Regions from separate parts of the Homo sapiens genome. Here region 2 is linked to region 1. Evidence: fine-mapped expression QTL. Tissue or cell type: whole blood. Region 1 holds a variant in brackets; the other region holds the start of a gene. All regions are shown on one strand. Distances are between the middles of the regions.

What was found. PIP is the estimated chance that this variant, and not a neighbour inherited with it, causes the effect.
Region 2: it holds the start of SLC7A1, and the variant in region 1 is fine-mapped to the expression of SLC7A1 in whole blood (INTERVAL, PIP above 0.99).

What each region holds. Positions count from the first base shown.
Region 1 is chr13:29,617,025-29,627,396 of GRCh38, reverse strand. No RefSeq gene overlaps it. Among named protein-coding and RNA genes, the nearest start is that of SLC7A1, 27 kb to the right of the region's middle. The variant T/A (reference allele first, on the strand shown) is at 5,190.
Region 2 is chr13:29,589,213-29,599,584 of GRCh38, reverse strand. SLC7A1 (solute carrier family 7 member 1) reads left to right here and starts at 3,897. Exons shown (of 13, transcript NM_003045.5): 1 at 3,897-4,169. RefSeq lists silencers at 3,531-4,770, 4,939-5,233 and enhancers at 4,881-5,010, 6,100-6,599, 6,600-7,101, 9,262-10,258.

The DNA of each region.
Region 1 (10,372 bases):
GTTCAGGCCGTGAATATCTTTGTTAATTGTCCATCTTGATGATCTGTCTAATATTGTCAGTGGGGTGTTAAAGTCTCCCACTATTATTTGGTGGGAGTCTAAGTCTCTTAGTAGGTCTCTAAAAACTTGTTTTATGGATCTGGGTATTTCTGTATTGGGTGTATATGTATTTAGGATAGTTAGCTCTTCTTGTTCAATTGAACACTTTACCATTATATAATGCCCTTCTTTGTCTTCTTTGATTTTAGCTGGTTTAAAGTCTGTTTTGTCAGAAACTAGGATTGCAACCCCTCCTTTTTTCTGCTTTCCATTTGCTTGGTAAATTTTCCTCCATCCCTTTATTTTGAGCCTCCGTGTGTCTTTGAACGTGAGGTGAGTCTCTTGAAGACAGCATACCAATGGGGCTTAAGTCTTTATCCATCTTGCCAATCTGTGTCTTTTAATTGGGGCATTTAACCCATTTACATTTAAGGTTAATATTGTTATGTGTGAATTTGATCCCGTCATCATGATGCTAGCCAGTTATTTTGCAGACTTGTTTATGTGGTTGCTTCATAGTGTCACTGGTCTGTGTACTTTAGTGTATTTTTGTAATGGATAATATAGTTTTTCCTTTCCATATTTAGTGCTTCTTTCAGGAGCTCTTGCAAGGCAGACCTTGTGGTGATGAATTTCCTCAGTGTTTGTTTGTCTGAAAAGGATCTTATTTCTCCTTTGCTTATGAAGCTTAATTTGGCTGGTAATGAAATTCTGGGTTGGAAATTCTTTTCTTTAAGAATGTTGAATATTGGCCTCCAATCTCTTCTGGCTTCTAGGGTTTCTGCTGAGAGGTCTGCTGTTAGTTTGATAGGCTTCCCTTTGTAGGTGACCTGGCCTTTCTCTCTGGTTGCCCTTAACATTTTTTCCTTCATTTGACCTCACAGAATCTGATGATTATGTGTCTTGGGGTTGATCTTCTCATGGAGGATGTTACTAGGATTCTCTGAATTTCCTGAATTTGAATATTGGTCTGTCTTGCTAGGTTGTGGAAGTTCTCCCGGATGATATCCTGAAGTATGTTTTCCTACTTGGTTTCATTTTTCCCTTCCCTTTCAGGAACACCAGTCAGTTGTAGGTTCAGTCTTTTTACATAATCCCATATTTCTCAGAGGTTTTACTCATTCTATTGCATTATTTTTTCTCTATTCTTGTCTGTCTGTCTGTCTGATTTCAGAAAGATAATCTTCTAGCTCTAAGATTTTTTTCTTTTGCATGGTCTATTCTGCTATTTATACTTGTGATTGCATTGTGAATTTCTTGTGTTGTGTTTTTCAGCTCTATCAGATCAGTTATGCCCCTCTCTAAATTGGCTATTCTGTTACCAACTCCTGTATAGTTTAATCATGATGCTTAGCTTCTTTGCATTGGATTAGAACATGCTCCTTTAGCTCAGTGAAGTTCATTATTGCTTTCTGAAGCCTACTTCTGTGAATTCAGCCATCTCAGCCTCAACCCAGTTCTGTGCCCTTGCTGGAAAGGTGTTGCAGTCATTTGGAAGAGAAGAGGCACTCTGGCTTTTTGAGTTTTTAGCATTTTTGTATTGATTCTTTCTCATCTTTGTGGGCTTACCTACCTTCGATTTTTGAGATTGCTGACTTTTGAATGGGGTTTTTGCAGGATCTTTTTGTTGATGTTGTTGTTGTTGCTCTCTCTCTTTTTTTTTAATTGGTCAGCCCACTCTTCTGTAGGGCTGCTGTGGTTTACTGGGGGTTCACTCCATATCCTAGTTACCTCTATCCCTCCCACACCTGGAGGTATCACCAGTGAAGGCTGTGAAACAGCAAAGATGGCAGGCCGCTCCTTCCTCTGGGAGCTCCATCTCAGGAGAGCATTAACTTGATCCTGGCCTGAACGCTCCTGTAGGAGGAGTCTAGAGACCCCTGTTGGGAAGTCTCACCCAATCAGGAGGAATGGGATCAGAGACCCACTTAAAGTAGCAATCTTGCTGCCCCTTGGCAGGGCAGGTGCGCTGCACTGTGGGGGGAGCCCCCTTGTCCAGACTGCCTAGACTCTCTAGAGCCAGAGGCTAGAAAGACTAAGTCAGCTGAAACACAGAGCCTGTGGCTGGCCCTTCCCCTGGGGCTCTGTCACAGGAAGAGATCAGAGTTCTGGTCTGGACCGCCTGGACTTCCCGGAGCCAGCATGCTAGAATGGCCCACTCAAACCACAGAGATGGCAGCCGCCCCTCCCCTGGGGAACTCAGTCTGTCTCAGGCAGTCTCCAGCCTACTGCCACTGGCCAGCTGGAATTCCAAGCCAGTGTGTCCTAAATTGTGAGGTGCCATTGGAGTGGGGCCATCAGAACAACTCTGCTTGGCTCCCTGGATTCAGCCCCCTTCCTAGGGGAATGCACGAATGGAACTCCCACCTCACCAGAATCCCCAGGGCCAGAGTACACAAAACTCCTGGGTCTCTGTGCATGCGTGAGTGTCCACTTCCCCAAGACTCCACACAGCTCTTTGCTTCGGACCTAAGTCTCTGGTGGCTCAGGTATCTCCTGATCCACAGGTTGCAAAGATACATGGGAAAAAAGTGGTTTCCTGGGCAGGGCCTCACAGTCACTCACTACTTCCCTTGGCTGGGGGTGGGGTCTCCCTGGCTTTGTGCTGCTTCAGGTGGGTTGTCGCCTCAACCTGCTTTTCCTTGCTCTCCATGGGTCAAGCTGTCTGCCTAGAACAAGAAAGAACTTGGATGCCTCAGTTGAAAGTACAGAATTCACTTGCCATTTTCACTCCTCTCGGTGAGAGCTGCAGACTGAAGCTTCTAATTGGCCATCTTGGTCCGCCTCCCGCGTGATTATTTTTGTTTCATTTTCATTCTTTTTTGTTTGTTTGTTTGTTTTAAGAGATGAGGTCTCCCTATGTGGCTCAGGCTAGGCTTGAACTCCTGGGCTCAAGTGATCCTCCTGCCTTACCATCCAGACTAGCTAGGACTACAGGTATGCATCACCATGCCCGCCCAGCCTCTCCTTCATTCTTGAAGGATATTTTCACTGGAATTTCTTGGAATTCACAAAATATCTTAGAATTGAAAAAATTTTAAGATGATAAATATTAACTTTTAGTCATTTAACTTAATTCCATTGTCATTTTTTATTCCATTTCACTGAAAAGTGAGATGCCAGTCTAATTATTGCTCTTTTGAAGTAATTTTTTTTCCTATGGTGATTTCCAAGATTTTCCTGTTTTCCTTTGGTTTTTAACAGTTTTACATGCTTTGCCTAAGCATAGTTTTCTTTTGGTTAATGTTGCTTTGAATATGTATAGACTTTTCTCAATCTGTGATTGATGTCTTTCATTAGTTTTGGAAATTTCTTGGCTATTATCTCTTCAAATATTATTATTATTGTTATCATTAGGGACAGAGTCTCACACTGTTGTGAGAGTGCTGGAGTGCAGTGGTATGATCAGAATTCACTGCAGCCTCCAACTCCTGGGCTCAAGTAATCCTCCTGCCTCAGCCTCCCAAGTAGCTAGGACTACAGGCACACAACCACACCCACCTAATTTTTTTCTTTCTTCTTATTTATTTATTTATTTTATTTTTTTTGGAGAGACAGGGTCTTTCTTTGTTGCCCTGGCTGGTCTCTCACTCCTGGTCTCAAGCAATCCTCCCCATTTGGCCTCTCAAAATGTTGGGATTAAAGGCATGAGCCACTATGTGCAGCCCAAGTATTATTTTGACCTCATTATGGGTCTTCTTTCCTTCTGGGACTTCAACTGAATACTCTCACCATACCCTCTTTTTCTCTCACTCTTTCTTCTGGATTTTCTGTCCTTTCTGTTTCATATTCATCATGCTAGATATGCATATACATGAATCATTTTTTCTCGTCTGTCTTTCAATTCGCTAATTCTCTCTTTAGCTCTCAGTCTAAATTCCTGTCAAATTCACCCATTGAATTATAAAATATAGTCATTGTCTTTTTCAGTTCTAGAACTGCCATTTGGTTCTTTTTTTTTTTTCAGTTTCTAATCCTCTGTCAAAAATCTCTATCTTTTATTGAATATAGTAAATTTGGTTATTTTACAGTTAATATTTGATATCACCATGATTTTATATTGGTGGACTGTTGATTTTGCCGGCCTGCTGTTTCTGGTGATTTTCTATCATGCTATTGTTTCTCTTTATATTCTAAAAATGTTTCATTGAGTGCTGGAGATTGTATTTGGAAACTATTTTGTAGATAATTTGATGTTTGCTTCTGCCAGCTGCCTGGGAGTAATAACAATCTGGAATCATTTTAGTGTAGTTTCAGGAATTGATACAATTCAAATATGAACAGTGGTCCTTGAAAGGATCTTTCTACTTGTAGTTTACCCTTTTTCTAGGATTCAGCCCACAAGGTTGCGACTCAAAACAAGAGAAGTTCACCGAAGTTCCCCCTCAATCTTGGCAGCACCTGGACCCCAATCCTTATTTCATCTGCCTCTGGTACTGTTAAGAGACCTTCTCAGCCTCTCGGCAGCCTCCATCTAAAATTGAAAAATGCTTCCAAGGAAAAAGCAGCCTCAAAGTCAAGAGAAAAAGGAGGTTCCTCTTCCTAGCCTCCCCTTTTCCTCCTAAAACATGGGCTAGCAACTTTTCACTGTCTCACTTTCTCTTGCTTGTATTCAAGCAGATACCTTTTATTTTGGCTACCTTATAGTCGGCAGAATGAGAGGTCTGAATAACCTAGTCTATCATTACCAGAAGCCTTAATTTAGTTTTTTAAATATTTATTTATTTATTTATTTACATGTAAATCACGGTAATATATATAAAAAACATAAAATTTACCATTTTAAGTGTACAGTACAGTGGCATTAAATACTCACATTGTTGTGCAACCATTACCACCATTCATCTCCAGAACTTCTTTATCTTTCCAAACTGAAATTCCATACTCGATTAAACAATAACTCCTCATTCCCCACTTCCCCTGGCCCTTGGCAATCACCATTCTATTTTCTGTCTCTATAAATTGGACTGCTCTAGGTACCTCATATAAGTGGACTCATACTGTATTTATCTTTTTTTGACTGGCTTATTTCACTTAGCATAATGTCTTCAAGCTTCATCCATGTTACAGTATGTGTCAGAATTTCCTTCTTTTTTAAGTTTAGATCATGTTTTATTGTATGTACAAACCACATTTTGCTTATCCATTCA[T/A]CTGTTGATGGACAACTGGGTTGCTTCCACCTCTTGGCTATTATGAATAATATTGCTATGAATATAGATGTCCAAATATAGTCATACATCCCATAATAGCATTTTAGTCAACAACAAACTATATGTAAAACAGTGGTTCCATAAGATAATAATGGAGCTGATAAATTCCTATCACCAAGTGACATCATAGCATAATAATGTTGTAGCACAATGACTCTATTTTTTTTGAGATGAAGCCTTGCTCTGTCACCAGGCTGGAGTGCGGTGGCGCGATCTCAGCTCACTGCAACTTCCGCCTCCCAGGTTCAAGCGATTCTCCTGCCTCAGCTTCCTGAGTAGCTGGGACAACAGGCGCATGCCACCACGCCAGGCTAATTTTTTGTATTTTAGTAGAGACAGGGTTTCCCCATGTTGGCCAGGATGGTCTCGATCTCCTGACCTTGTGATCCAGCCACCTTGGCCTCCCGAAGTGCTGGGATTACAGGCGTGAGCCACTGAGCCCGGCCAACATTATTTTAAAAATAAATTTAGTGTAGTCTAAATGTACAGTGTTTCTAAAGTCTACAGTTGAGTACAGTAATGTCCTAGGCTTTCACATCCTCACCACTTATTTGCTGACTCACTCAGAGGAACTTCCAGTCCCCAAGTTCCATTCATGGTAAGTGCCCTATGTAGGTATACCATTTTTTATCTTCTGAATTATGTTTTTACTGTCTCTTTTCTATATTTAGATATGTTTAGATATCTGGGTACTTACCATTGTGTTACAATTGCCTACAGTATTCAGTAAGGAAACATGCTGTATATAGTACAGGTTTGTAGCCTAGGTATATAGTAGGCTCTATTATCTAGGTTTGTGTAAGTATACTCTATGATGTTCACACAATGATAAACTGCCTAACAATGCATTTCTGAGAACATATTCCTGTCATTAAATAACACATGATTGTAACTGAGTCCTTGCTTTCATTTCTTTTGGGTATATATCCAGACAGGGGATTGTTGAACCATATAGTAATTCTATGTTTCATATTTTGGGAAACCACACACTATTTTCCATAGTAGCTGCAACATTTTACATTCCCACCAACAATGCACAAGGATTCTAATTTCTCTTCACCAACACTTATTTTCTGGTTTTTTTTTTTTTTTTTTTTTTGGTAATAGCCACCATAATGGGTGTGATCAATTGAGTTTTAGTTTCAGTTATTATATTTTTTCATTTCTAGAGTTCTATTCCATTTTTTTCAAACATCTGTTTTATTTATTTAACACTGCTAAAGATAGTTATTTTATATCTGGGTGTGATATTTCTCTATCTGAAGTTTTGCACATCTGTTTCTATTGTCTGTTACTGATTATTTCACTGATGGTGCCTTTTTAGTCTGTGTTTAGATGATTTAAAATTATGAGTTGATCATTTTATTTAGGCATTTATTCATGGGAATTTTTCCCACGTACCCTTGCTTGAAGGTACATTCTTCTAAATAAGATTTGTGTTTGCTTTTGCCAGCAACTAGGAGGCACTGCCAATATGAGACTTCTTTAAATTTAATCCTGGCTTGAGATTGTTCAGATCACTACCAATATGAACTTGTACCGAAATTTATGTGGGGTCCAGACTGAGATGATGAATTCTCAATAAAGACTGCTATTACCCCTCCAACAAGCATCAAGTTCAAGACGAGGAGGTTTCTCCATTGTTTCCATTTGCATATCAGTTTTTATTTCTTTTTCATCCCATCATGAAATGTTGCCCTTGGGGTCCCAGCTAAATGCAGAAGTGGGTATCTCCTTATAGGAGTAAATCTTACAGATTTACTAATTTTAGTAGATGCTCAGCTTTATTTCCTTGCCTGGACCTAATTAATTTGAGAGATATTTTATATTCCCAGTGGAAAAAAGGACTACAGCAAAGGTATACATTCTTCTTCAGTTAGTGTGTAGTCTTAAAGTAATTCCATTCAACATTCCAGAGTTCTGTGTATGGCAGGGAAGAATGTGGTAAAATGATTCTCAGAATAAATCAGTATGAAAAATAAGAATTTTAGAAAGAAGAATGGGAAGACAGAAGAATTTACCTACTTGACAGCAAGCTACATCACTAAGTTGTCCAAAGAAAAATGATACAATAATTAACAATAATTCCATGGAAGAGCCTAAATAGAGTAAACCCTAAAATATAACCTTAATGTATGATAAATGACTCATCACAAGTCATTAAGAAATTGATTCTTCAGCAAATGGTGTTTGTAAAATATAAAACTGAGATTTATATTCTTACTTCATTGCATACACTGGAGTAAATTTGCCATAAATTAAACAACTGAAAATACAAGAACCTGTAAAATTTATTTTATATGAATGAATGAATAATCTCTAGTCAGAAAAAACTTTCTAAGGATGGAAGCAATTAGAGAAATAACAAAAGGAAAGATAACTAGATACAAATGAAAAGTCTGTACAGCAAAAGACATAACAACTTAAAGCTAACAACAACTGTAGGGAAAATTCTTTTTTAATTTTAATTTTAATTTTTTATTTCAGTAGGTTTTTGGGGAACAGGTGGTGTTTGGTTACACTGATAAATTCTTTAGCAGTAAATTTAGTGATTTTGGTGCACCTATCACATGTGCAGTGCACACTGTACCAAATGTGTTGTCTTTTATCCCTCATCCCCTCCCAACCTTTTCCCTGAGTCCCCAAAGTTCACTGTATCGTTGTTATGCCTTTGCGTCCTCATAGCTTAGCTCCCTCTTATGAATGAGAATATACGATGTTTGGTTTTCCATTCCTGAGTTACTTCACTTAGAATAATGGTCTCAAATTCCATCCAAGTGACTGTGAATGCCATTGTTTTGTTCTTTTTATGGCTGAGTAGTATTCCATATATATATTTTCTTTATCTACTCATTGATTGATGGGCATTTGGGCTACTTTCATATTTTTGCAATTGTGAATTGTGCTTTCATAAACATGTGTGCAAATATCTTTTTCGTATAACAACTTCTTTTCCTCTGGATAGATACCCAGAAGTAACATTGCTGGATCAAATGGCAGATTTACTTTTAGTTCTTTAAGGAATCACCACACTGTTTCCCATAGTGGTTGCACTAGTTTACATTTTCACCAGCAGTGTAAAAATATTTATTTTCACCACATCCACGCCAACATTTATTATTTTTTGATTTTTTGATTATAGTCATATTTGCAGAAGTAAGGTGGTATCACATTGTGATTTTGATTTACATTTCCCAGACAATCAGTGGTATCAAGCATTTTTTCATATGTTTGTTGGCCATTTGTATACCTTCTTTTGAGAATTGTCTATTCATGTCCTTAGCCCAGTTTTTGCTGGAATTGTTTGTTTTTTTCTTGCTGATTTGTTTGAGTTCTTCATAGATTCTGGATATTAGTCCTTTGTCAGATGCATATTTGTGAAGATTTTCACCACTGTGGGTTGTCTGTTTACTCTGCTGATTATTTCTTTTGCTGTGCAGAAGCATTTTAGTTTAATTAAGTCCCATCTATTTATTTTTGTTTTTGTTGCATTTGCTTTTGGGTTCTTGGCCATGAAGTCTTTGCTTAAGCCAATGTCTAGAAGGTTTTTTTATGTTATCTTCTAGGATTTTTATAGCTTCAGGCTTTACATTAAAGTCTTTGATCCACCTTTAGTTGATTTTTTATAAGATGAGAGATGAAGATACAGTTTCATTCTTCCACATGCGGCTTGCCAATTATCCCAGCACCGTTTGTTGAATAGGGTGTCCTTTCCCCACTTTACGTTTTTTTTTTTGCTTTGTTGAAAATCAGTTGGCTGTAAGTATTTAGCTTTATTTCTGGGTTCTCTATTCTGTTCCATTGGTCTATGTGCTTATTTTTATACCAGTACCATGATGTTTTGGTGACTATAGCTTTATAGTATAGTTTGAAGTCAGGTAATGTGATGCCTCCAGATTTGTTCTTTTTGCTTTGTCATGCTTTGGGTATGCGGGCTATTTTTTGGTTGCATATGGATTTTAAGATTGTTTTTTCTAGTTCTGTGAAGAGTGATGGTGGTATTTTGATGGGAATTGCATTGAATTTGTAGATTGCTTTTGGCAGTATAGTCATTTTCACAATATTGATTCTACCCTCTCATGAGTGGGGGATGTGTTTCCATTTGTTTGTGTCATCTATGATTTCTTTCAGCAGTATTTTGTCATTTTCCTTGTAGAGGTCTTTCACCACCTTGGTTAGATATATTCCTAAGTATTTTATTTTATTCAAAGCTATTGTAAAGGATGTTGAGTTTTTTATTTGATTCTCAGCTTGGTCGCTGTTGACATATAGCAGTGCTATTGATTTGTGTACATTGATTTTTGTATCCTGAAACTTTACTGAATTAATTTATCAGATCTAGGAGCTTTTGGGATGAATCTTTAGGGTTTTCTAGGTATATGATCATATCATTGGCAAACAGCAAGAGTTTGACTTCCTCTTTACCAATTTGGATGCTCTTTATTTCTTTCTCTTGTCTGATTGCTCTGGCTAAGACTTCCAGTACTATGTTGAATAGAAGTAGTGAAAGTGGGCATCCTTGTCTTGCTCCAGTTCTCAGGGGGAATGTGTTCAGCTCTTCCCCATTCAGTGTAATGTTGGCTGTGGGATTGTCATAGATGGCTTTTATTACCTTAAAGTATTTCCCTTCTATGCTGATTTTACTGAGGGTTTTAATCTTATAGCAATGCTGGATTTTGTCAAATGCTTTTTCTGTGTCTGTTGAGATGATCATATGATTTTCTTTTAATTCTATTTATGTGTTGTATCACGTAAACAGAATTGCATATGTTAAACCACCCCTGCATCCCTGGTATGAAACCCACTTGATTATTATGGATTATCTTTTTTATATGCTGTTGAGTACAGTTAGCTAGTATTTTGTTAGGGATTTTTGCACCTACGTTCATCAGAGATATTGGTCTGTAGTTTTCTTTTTTTGTTATATCCTTTCCTGGTTTTGGTATTATGGTGATACTGGCTTCATAGAATGATTTAAAGAAGATGCCCTCTTTATCTTGTAGAATAGTGTCAGTAGGGTTGCTACCAATTCTTCTATGAATGTCTGATAGAATTCAGCTGTGAATCTGTCTTGTCCTAGACTTTTCTGTTGACAATTTTTTAAATTGCTATTTCAATTTTGC
Region 2 (10,372 bases), 28 kb after region 1:
TTTCATAGATAATGCTTTTGCTGTTGTATCTAAAAAGCCATTGGTAGATTTCCTCCTATGTTATCTTCTAAGCATTTTATAGGTTTGTGTTTTACATTTAGGCCTATGATCTGTTTTGAGTTAATTGCTGTGTAAGATGTTAAAGTCTGTGTCTAGATTTATTTTTTGCATGTGGCGGTCCAGGTCCAGTTGTTCCAGGACCATTTGTTGAGGAGACTATCTTGTCTCCATTGACTTGTCTTAGCCACTCTGGATCAGCTATTTGTGTGGGTCTAGGCTACTGTTTGGGTTTCGATGTTTGTGCCCTCCAGACCTCATGTTGAAATTTGATCCCCAATGTTGAAGGTGGAACCTAATGGGAGGTATTTGGTTCACGGGTGTGGATCCTTCATGAAATGTCCTTCCTGGGGGTAGGTGGGACGGGGAGATGAATTTTCACTCTATTAGATGACTCTGGAGCTGGTTATTTAAAGGAACCGGGCCCTTCTCTCCTCTCCCTCTTGCTTATACTCTTGTCATGTGATCTCTGCACACACGCACACTCCCTTTCATCTTTTGCCATGAGTGGAAGCAGCCTGAAGCCCTCTCCACATGCAGATGTCCAATCTTGAACTTTCCAGCCATTAGAATTGTGAGCCAAATAAACCATTTTTTCTTTATAAATTACCCAGACTCGAGTATTCCATTATAGCAATACAAAACAAACTAAGTCTATTTCTGAGCTCTATATTCTGTTCATCTTTATACACATTTTTCATCCTTACCATGAAGTTCGTATGTATCCAGCAGGTAGTAAAATTCTTATTTCGAAAATGAGGAAACTGAGGCACAGAGTGAGCAGGGCCCCTCTCCCCAGGCCAGCAGCTGGTTAGAATTGAAACCCACATCTGCCTGGCTTTGATTCTGTGCACTTTCCTTGCCCCCAAGGTGCCTAATGGTGCTAGAAAGAGACTTAGTATGTCAACCTTAACCTTAGATGTTGCTCTCTAGGGCCTAAATTGTAGCATCTCCCTTTCTTAATGGTTGCTGGAATCTTGGGCAGCTGCTCTTTGATTGTAATCAAGGCTGCCTGTCACTCACGGTTTCTCTGAACCTGTAATGTGAGTCTTGACCTGCCTAAAAACTGGCTTTGCTTAAAACATGTAGCCCTCTTTATCAGCATCCTCTAATGTTTTGCTGAGATCTTGTGCGTAACTATTTTTTCCCTGGTTCATACTGAATCCTTTTTGCTGAGAAGTCACTTGCTCATGGGGCTTGTCTTATTGTCTTTTTGAAGACAGGACCTTGCTGAGTGGGATTGCTAAACGGAGCACAGTGCTAAAAATCTCCTGGGTTAAATGTCACCATACTCCCATCAGGGCCTGGAGCACTTGCTCTCAGAATTTACAAACATTAACTCATGTTGGCGCTCTGTGTTGCCCAAGGAGAGCATCTCTACAATTTATGAAATTCTATTTTACTGCCAGAAGTCAGCAAAGAGAAAAAGAAAGAAAGAGAGGCAGAAAGAGAAAATTCCACAGTCATATTTCAAACACCAAGGGATAGATTTTTTTCTTAAGAATATAAGATTTACAAGCTCCAAACAGGAGTGAAATAGTTTGCAGAAGCTCTCACAGCAAATGAACTGGTAGAGTTCAGATTCAAATCCTGATCTGGTGCCAAGGGCAAAGCAGGTGGTCTTTAATCCTACCAGGCTTCTCTCTGTGAGAAGGGGACATGCTTACTGTGGCCTCAGCAGACAGAGTAGGCTGCGTGGGATCTGGGAGATCTTCTGTGAATGGAAGGCATCATTTCACCACTGTGCAATTGAACTAAGATACATTGTTTTATTTATTTTTTATTGATTTTTATTATTATTTTTTTGAGACGGAGTCTCGCTCTGTCACCAGGCTGGGGCGCAGTGGTGCGATCTTGGCTCACTGCAACCGCCGCCTCCTGGGTTCAAGTGATTCTCCTGCCTCAGCCTCCCGAGTAGTTGGGACTACAGGCGTGCGCTACCACGCCCAGATCATTTTTGTATTTTCAGTAGAGACGGGGTTTCACCATGTTGGCCAGGATGGTGTCAATCTGCTGACCTCATGATCTGCCTGCCTTGCCCTCCCAAAGTGCTGGATTACAGGCGTGAGCCACCGTGACAGGCCAGATTTGTTGCTTTAAAACAAAGCATATATGGTGGCTTACTATGATGTCAAGCACTGTTCAAAGCACATTACAAAGCTGGGCAGGATGGTGCTCGCCTATATTTCCAGCTACTGGGGAAGCTAAAGTGAGGCGATCGCTTGAGCCTAGGAGTTCAAGGCTGCAGTGAGCTATGATGTTGCCACTGCACTCCAACTTGGTGACAGAGTGAGACCCACTCTCTAAAACAAAGACAAAAACACATTTTACAACTGCTAAGCCATCTGCATGTGTTCATTAAAACTTTTTCTGGGGACTTTTTCTGGCTCATCCCTGTAGTCCCGATGCTAGGGGAGGTTGAGGCAAAATGATCGCTAGACAGCTGGTATTTGAGGCCAGCCTATGCAACATATCAAAAACCCGTGTCTATATGTAGAAAAAATATTAACTAGGCGTGATGACACAAGCCTGTAGTTCCATCTGCTTGGGAGGCTGAGGCAGGAGGATGGCTTGAGCCTGGGAATTTGAAGTTCCAGTGAGCTATGATTGTACCGCTGCATTCCAGCCTGGGTGACAGAGTGAGACCCCTGTCTCTAAAAAACAAACAAATGACAACAGCAACAACAACAGAACACTTTTTCTGAAGCTAGCACCATGCAGTTATGTACTTTATAAATTGCTAGTCTAATTCCAAGGGAATAGTTCAGCAGCTGATATTTGAGAAGGACCTGTAGAAAGGATTCAAAGACCACGGACACCGTCCACTGTTTTTCTGTTTTCCTATAAGATAGAAGAAGGATGGCATTATTAATTTATGCCCTGTTTACCTATCCCAAGTCCCAGATCACTGGATCTTTAAAGATTATGATTCTCGCTTGGCTTTTGGTACAAAAGGAGACAAGGAGGGAGCTTAAAAGGTGAGCACGGTGTGATTCAGGACTGAAGCTTCTGCCACTTCCTGGGGGGTAACTGCAAAAGTGAGCCGTTCTGACTAGCCGTTTGTGCATTTGCCACTGCCAAGGGGGCACAGGTAGATTCAAGCTTTGGGGCTCTTCTGACAACTGGCAAGGATAAGGTATTAGCAAGGGCAAAGGAATAGTAATAAAATAATCCAATAACAAAGACATGAAGATTTATAATAATTTTTAGGCCGGTGCAGTGTTTCAGGACTGTAATCCTAGGGCGCTTTGGGAGGCCCAGGCGGGAGGATCGCTTGAGGCCAGGATTTCGAGGTTAAGGTGAACTGCGCTCCAGCCTGGGCAATAGAGTAACACCCTGTCTCTAAAATGAAAAGAAAACAGTTTAAACCTTTTAAGTGCATACCAAATCTTTTATTTTGGAGAAGGAAAACTGGTCTCGAGTTCCGTGTGAGCTCCCTGGGGCCCGCCGGGAGGGGGTTGGCACGGCCGGACCTGCAGCACTAGTTCTGGCCAGGGCGCTGTGGGATCTGCAGGGGACCACAGGATGCTGTGGCGCGGTGCGCTCAGATTGGCGGAGAAACGGCCACACGCCTACGGAGCTACTGAGAAGGCGAGCGGAGGCGCAGCCCGCCCGCCCGCCGCGGGAACCCCAGGTTGGGGCGCTGGGCGCGCGAAGACTCAGCCGCCCCGCCCACCAAGGGCGCGTCGGTCCCCGGCCGCAGCCTCTGGGCTGGCAGCCGCCGCCGCGCCGCGCTCCCATTGGTGCCCGGCGGTGACGCGGCCGAGCGGGCCGGGGCTGCCTGGTCCGGGGGCGGGCGTGGGGCGCGGGGCGCGGAGCGCGAGGGGCGGGGGCCGGGCGCACTGCTGATGAAACCTGGCGCCGGAACCCGCCAGCCCTCGGCGCCCATTCAGTCCGCGCAGGCAGGTGTGAGCAGCGGGTCAACTACCTGGCAGGCGCGCACGCGGCCGCGGGCTCCCGCTAACCGCAGCCTCCACTCCTCTCCCCGCGCGCCGCGCCCCCGCCCCGCCCCGCCCCGCCCGGTCTCGCCGGCCGAGCGTCCGTTGGTCCTTGAGCGCGTCCGACAGTCTGTCTGTTCGCGATCCTGCCGGAGCCCCGCCGCCGCCGGCTTGGTGAGTGCCCGGCCCCGCCAACGCAGGGGGCAGCTCCTTGGGCCCGGGTCATCACGGAGGGGGCCCTGGCGCCGCGTGGGGCCGCGGCAGGGCGGCGCGGGAGTGGCGAGGGCCCCCGCGCCGGGAACGCTGCCATCCTCTGGGAAGGGCCAGGACCAGGGCCGGGCGGGCCCCGGAGTGGGCGAGCGGGGCTGGTGCCCATGCGACTGTCGCCTCCACGGAGTCCATTTTGGCTCCCTGAAACCGCGGCGTGGTGCATGATGCAACACCGAGTGAGTAAGCGTGGGCGATCTGGCGATGCCCGCTCCGCGCGCCTGTCCGGGGACCCGCGCGCCGCTACGCACGGGGTGGTCGGGGTGCGTAGGCGGGCGGCGGGCACGGGGGCCAGACTGGGAGGCACACGGAGCCCGCCGGCGGCGAGGAGACCTTCCCTTACATGGCGCGGTGCAGAGCACCCCGCCCCGCCACGAGGTCCGGGGATGTGTCATCAGCCGTGGGTGGGGACTCTGCCCGGCCGCCCGGAGGGTGGTCCCGCGGCAGGTGGCCGGCCCAGGGACTCTGCTGCCATCCCCGCCCGGTGGCCGCCCTGACCTAGGGCGCCTGGCTCTCCGCTTGTCCCTAGAACCCGGGACGCGCCGCCTGCACCTCTCGTCTGGGTCCCCAAGATTGCTTTGAGGAAGTCTCCCCTAGGTGGGCTTCCTTGTGACCCAGTGTGGCCTGGAAAGGCCGGGTTCCTCAAGCCCTCCACATGGTTTGGAATGAGAGGAAGTTCTTCCGCCTTTAGCAAGACACCGTATTCTCAGGGTGTTCCTTTCTGCGTAGTAGAAAACTTCCCAGGCATGGGCAGGTCAGAGTCATTCTAAAACCTGCGCGTACACAGAGCGGCAGCTGCACTGTAGTACTACAACAGCCTGCTGGTTCAGCTCCTGACCCTTTCCAGGGGATGGGGGAACCAGACAGCAGTTGTGTTTGACTTGTGTGACTAGGATAGTCAGACATGTGCCTTCAGGAAAAAAATAAATAAATAACCTACATTTCCCAATACTCACGTCATCACCGCCATGCCCTCATGTGTTGGGTTTTAGTCCAGACATAGTTACCAGATGGTTGAGATTTCAATCCCAGGTGTATCTCCCTAAAGAATGTGCCTTTTATCTTACTTACATTCGACTAGTAGAATTGTGTATGTCGGCCTCTGGCCGAATGCCCTAATTGTATTTAATTCGAATTATAATTTATCTGGGATTTTTCCTAACATTTCTTGCCCTTTATGTTTGGTTCAGATAATAGGAAACCATGATACATTTATTCCTCTGGTATTTTTAGTTGATCTCAGTGGAAATTACCATGATTTTTATATGAACACACCCTCCTGTTATTAAAACAAAAGGTCTTATTTAAGTCACACGAACAGAATAGAAACTTAGGGGAAAGGTCAACAATAGATTAAAATGGTTTTAAAAATAGGTTTAGCATATTACGATCATGTTTAATTATTATAAAGGTAAAATTCAAAGGATGTCAAAGGAGTTTTGAGTAAAGAGGAAAGGGCTTAGTAAGTAGATCAGAAATGTACTCCCTTGTCTGGGTCTGGATCCTAGAGCCACGTGCTCCTGTACATATGATTACTTGCTTTAGGTGAAAAAAAAAAAGAAAGGCTTGAAAGACAAGACTGTTGACTTCAGGGAGTTACAATTTTCTATTTGGTAGAAGAACTCATTCTTTGATGGAATTAAATACGTGTTGATTGATTATTCTGGTCTGTAGTTTATTTTAACCAAAGTCCATACAAATAGATAATTATGTTGGAGGGCTCAGAATTATGTCCAATTAAATTAATCCTTTCTCATTATCAACCATGTATTTGGAGGGATTGCTATTAATCCTAGGGACAAATTTGAAATGTGAATAAGTGCATCCTTGTTATGGAGAAAAATATTGTTTCCCTCTAACCTTGGAGATACTTGAGTCTCGGAGTTATCTCTTCCAGAGGCATCTTCAGAGATGCCTATCACTCCACCTGCCTCTTGGTCCTCACTCCAAGCAAGACCTTCCGATAGGATGTGGTGTTTTTCTGTATAGTTGGCCCCTGCAGACCTGGATAGATTTTAAAGGCAGATCCAATAGGATTGGCCGGTGGATTCATGGAAGGACGAGAAAGGTCAAATATGACTCCAAGCACATCGGAGTTGCTGTATTAATGAGATGGGAAGGCTGAGCAAAGAACGTGTTGGATGGAAGAGGGACTTTTTGAAAGTCACAACTGACCTTTTTAGAACTCTTATCCCCAGGGTCAGGGCTGGAAGATGTATCTTCTTGGGGCCCCTCTCAGGTGCCTGCCTGTGTGTTGCAGCCACCCGTCCAGGCTGCTGGCCTCCTTCCCCTTCACCTAGCTTTACTGGCTCCTCTCGCCAAATCTGGGGGGTCTCTTCAGCCTCTGTCTCCTTGCTGCCCATGGCCTCCCTTTGCTCCCCTGCCGCCTTCTAGTGGGCCGCCTGGTGGTGGACTTGTCCTGTGGGATGGAGACCCTCCATACATGGGGTTCAAAGGTCCTGGGGTATTCCTGGATCTTCAGGACATCTGCCTACCCTCAGGTTTCCCAGGCCTCGGGTGGGGAGGCATCAGATCCCTGGCCAACCTGCTATCCACCCCAGGGTTTAGACCTCTCTTCCCGTGAGGGAACAGAGTAGTAGCTTCATTTGTGGCAGATTATCTGCCTTGTGATAAACTTTAGTGGCCTCCCTTTCTGTTTTGCCATAATCTGCCTCCTCCCCCACTCCCATACCCATCTACAAAGCAGCCTTGAAAATAACCACCCCTGTGGTTCAGTGTGGGTCATGATCTGTCAATCCAGGCTTAGTACATTTCCAAATGGAATTACCAGAAGGATGGGCATCAAACTGGGAAAATGATTTGGTGGCTTGCTAGCCGTGTTCCTTTTTCTCCCAAGGCATTCGTTCAGATGTGCAGTGTTGGCAGACCCAGGGGATGCCATTTACCTGGCCCACTGGTCGAGATTTGGTCATCCCAGGAACTTGGGCTTCAGAAAAGATGTTTCTGGGCTTTGGACCAGATTCTGGCTGGTCTGTGGTTTGCCCCTCCTGCCACACCCAGTGGCTTTCATTGGGCTTTTTTCCTCTAGTTATTGTCAGGAACAGTGGGGAATGGCAGGTATTGCATTTGGTGAACACACTGGATAACTGGAATCAGAGCCGTGTGACTGAGGGAAGAGGCCTTCACAGCTTCAATGCAGAATGGGATGATTATCTGCCCTGAAACGAAGGATGCTTCTTTGAGGGGAGTTGGGACCAATACTGGGAACAGCACCGCTCCTGGCTTCTCTGGCTTTGCTTCTCTCTGAAGTAATTTAGACTTCGTGAACCTTACATACTGGCTCCATCTGTATATTGGGAGAGCCTGTCCCTCTCAGCCTCACAGTAGTGAAGTTAGGAAGCATGGAGTCCACAGTGTTCTTTGAAAGAATCAAGGCACCAAGTCCATGCATTTACATTTCTCTCTTGAGATCAGTCCTTTTGTTAGCAGCCTGCAATTCTGACCACGGCAACCAAAAATTTCTGACCGTGGCAACCAAAAATCAAGCGCGAGGAAACCTGGGGGTTTATTTGGAGGTGGGAGAGGATGTCCCTTCTTCTGGTAGGACTATGTCTGGCTACATTGTCTTTCCATTTTTTTCTGATTGTCCCCTTGCCCCCCTCCCTTTTCTGGGGGCACAGAGGGCATGGCAATTTTGTTTCCTAGCTTTCCATATTCCTACTGCAGTGCTTTCTTCAGAATACTTGTTCAGATCGGATTCTTGGCTGTGAGGGCAACCAGCTGCTTTCCTGTTTCTTTAAAAGTGGATCCCACACTGCCGTGTCCTGCACAGTGAGTTCTGCATTGTAGAAACCATCTAGCAGTGGTGACTCAGGGAGTGGCCTCTGCTCGGTATGGGGCCTCTGCAACATGAGGTTATGGGGCTTCTACGCTGTGGGGTCAAAGGAGACATCATGATCCCTACTGGCAGAAAGAGCAGAGCCCCAGAGTGGGTTCCACTTACGGGGTCAGTGTCTTTTCTGAGATATTCCTCAGAACCACATTTAAATTCTTTTTCATATTGTTTGCATAATAATTGCCTTCTAGTGCCTACTTTATAGGACTGAGAGGATTTAAATGAGATAATCCATGTTATGGATTTAACACAGCCTCTGGCACAAGTCTAAATGTTGCATGTAAGTGTTAACTATTATACTGGAAAGAAGGCTCAGTTCCTTGATTTAGGTGTGGGAGAAAAATATATATATATTTTGAGATAGGGTCACACTCTGTCACCCAGGCTGGAGTGCAGTGGTGCAGTCACAGCTTGTATTAGCCTCCACCTCCTGGGATCAAGCGATCCTCCCACCTCAGCCTCTGAGGTACCTGGAACCATAGGTGTGTACCACCACACCCGGCTAATTTTTATTTTTTATTTTTTGGTAGAGAAGGGATCTCATTATGTTGCCCAGGCTGGTCTCAAACTCCTGGCCTCAAGTGATCCACCTGCCTCGCCTCCCTAAAGTGCTAGGTTTATGGTCGTGAGCCACTTAGCCTAGCCCTGAGAAAAATAATTTTTACAACAACTTAATTTCGCTCTCTCATTTTACCAAGGCATTAAAATGTTGTGCTCTTTCCTTGGGTGGGTTTCTAAATTAGAAGGGGCAGACATAGTCCCAGGGTGCTGGAGGAGGGATGCGGGCCTCTGAGGCATCTGCTGACAGGTTCACCATCCCATCTGGTCCCAGGTCTGAGGGAAGGAACAATAGTCTCTGGGCTGTTTTGGCTCTGACTGCCTGGATGGACTTGAAGCCATCTCTCTTTGGAATCCTGATGTCTCCCTGAGCATGGGGTGCAGGTTTGCTTAGGACTCAGACCCATGCACCTTGCGCTCAGTGACTTCTAGGACTCCTGGGAAACAGAGCTCTCAGCCCCTTTCTTAGTGTTTGCTGTGTGTGGGTATGTGTATGTTTATGTGTATGTGTATGTGTATGTGTATATGTATGTGTGTGTGTTTGGTGGGGGGCAGGACGGGAGTGACTGCCCTGGCTACAGTCATCCCAAACATGTTGTTCAAATTACTCCGAAGCCCTTGGGTTTTAGAAAAAGCAAAGCTGAAAAGCTGAAACTCTGGGCCGTGTTTCCCACCTCACTCATCCCGTGCTTGGGTCTGTAGGATAGGATGTCTCCATACAGCACAGGGGTGGTGGGCGACACCCACCTGGGGGCAGCAGTGAGAAGGCAGGGGCTCATCCTCCCCACAAAGTGGCTGGAGTTGATCTGTTATGGACGTGTTCGAAGTGTCCTTCTCTGCATCTTGTCTGCTTACTGAGTGCCATTAGCCAAAGTCTGTTAGGCCAAGTAGGAAGGAAGGGAGGGGCCCTGGGGCTAGGTAAGATCAATCATTGCAAGCACTTATTTAGTGCTCACCATGTACTCTGCGCTTTATCTATGTTTCATTTGAATCTTCCTAACCACCCAGTGGGATCGGCCCTTCTGGTGTGACTGATGGGGAGAGGGGAAGGCAGGTGGCCCACGGGCACACAGGTAGGCAGTCAGTGGCAGAGTGAAGATTGGAACCCAGATGTCTGCCTGTACCTGGACTCCAGCCTGTCTCGGGATAGGCCTGGCCTGGCCTGCCCTGTGTACACTGAGTGGGAGGCAGACAGATCTGAAGCCCATCTGCCTGCGTCCCTCTGTTTCTGGCTGAGTCCAGGTGGTGCTGGCACCGGTCACCCGCCCCAACGCTGGAGGGCACCCTGCCTCCCCTCTCTTTGCCCTGATTTCCCTCTGCTGTCTCTGAAAGTGGGTCTTCCCCCTCCCAAGTCCAGGCACCTGGCACAGCTGGAGCCCTGGGGTCCTTGGGGCAGCTGCGCTGGGACGTGGCCAGTGTCAGGAGCCGGTGTGTGTGACGGAGGCTGGGCTGCATTCTTTCTGGGTCAGTAGTTTGGCATTTACATCACCAGCCTTTGGCTGGATGCAATGCCTCCTGCCCAGACCACAATGGAGCCTTGTTTGATTTATCACCATCCAGCCACGCCCACACTCCACCTCCATCTCCACCTGGGGAGACCCCTTTGCAGGGGGTCTTGTGGAAATCAGAGACTGTTCGTAGGGGAAAGTCAGCTTCCTTTTCTGTGTTCCATCCTTCTTAAGGCCAGTGGCCGCTG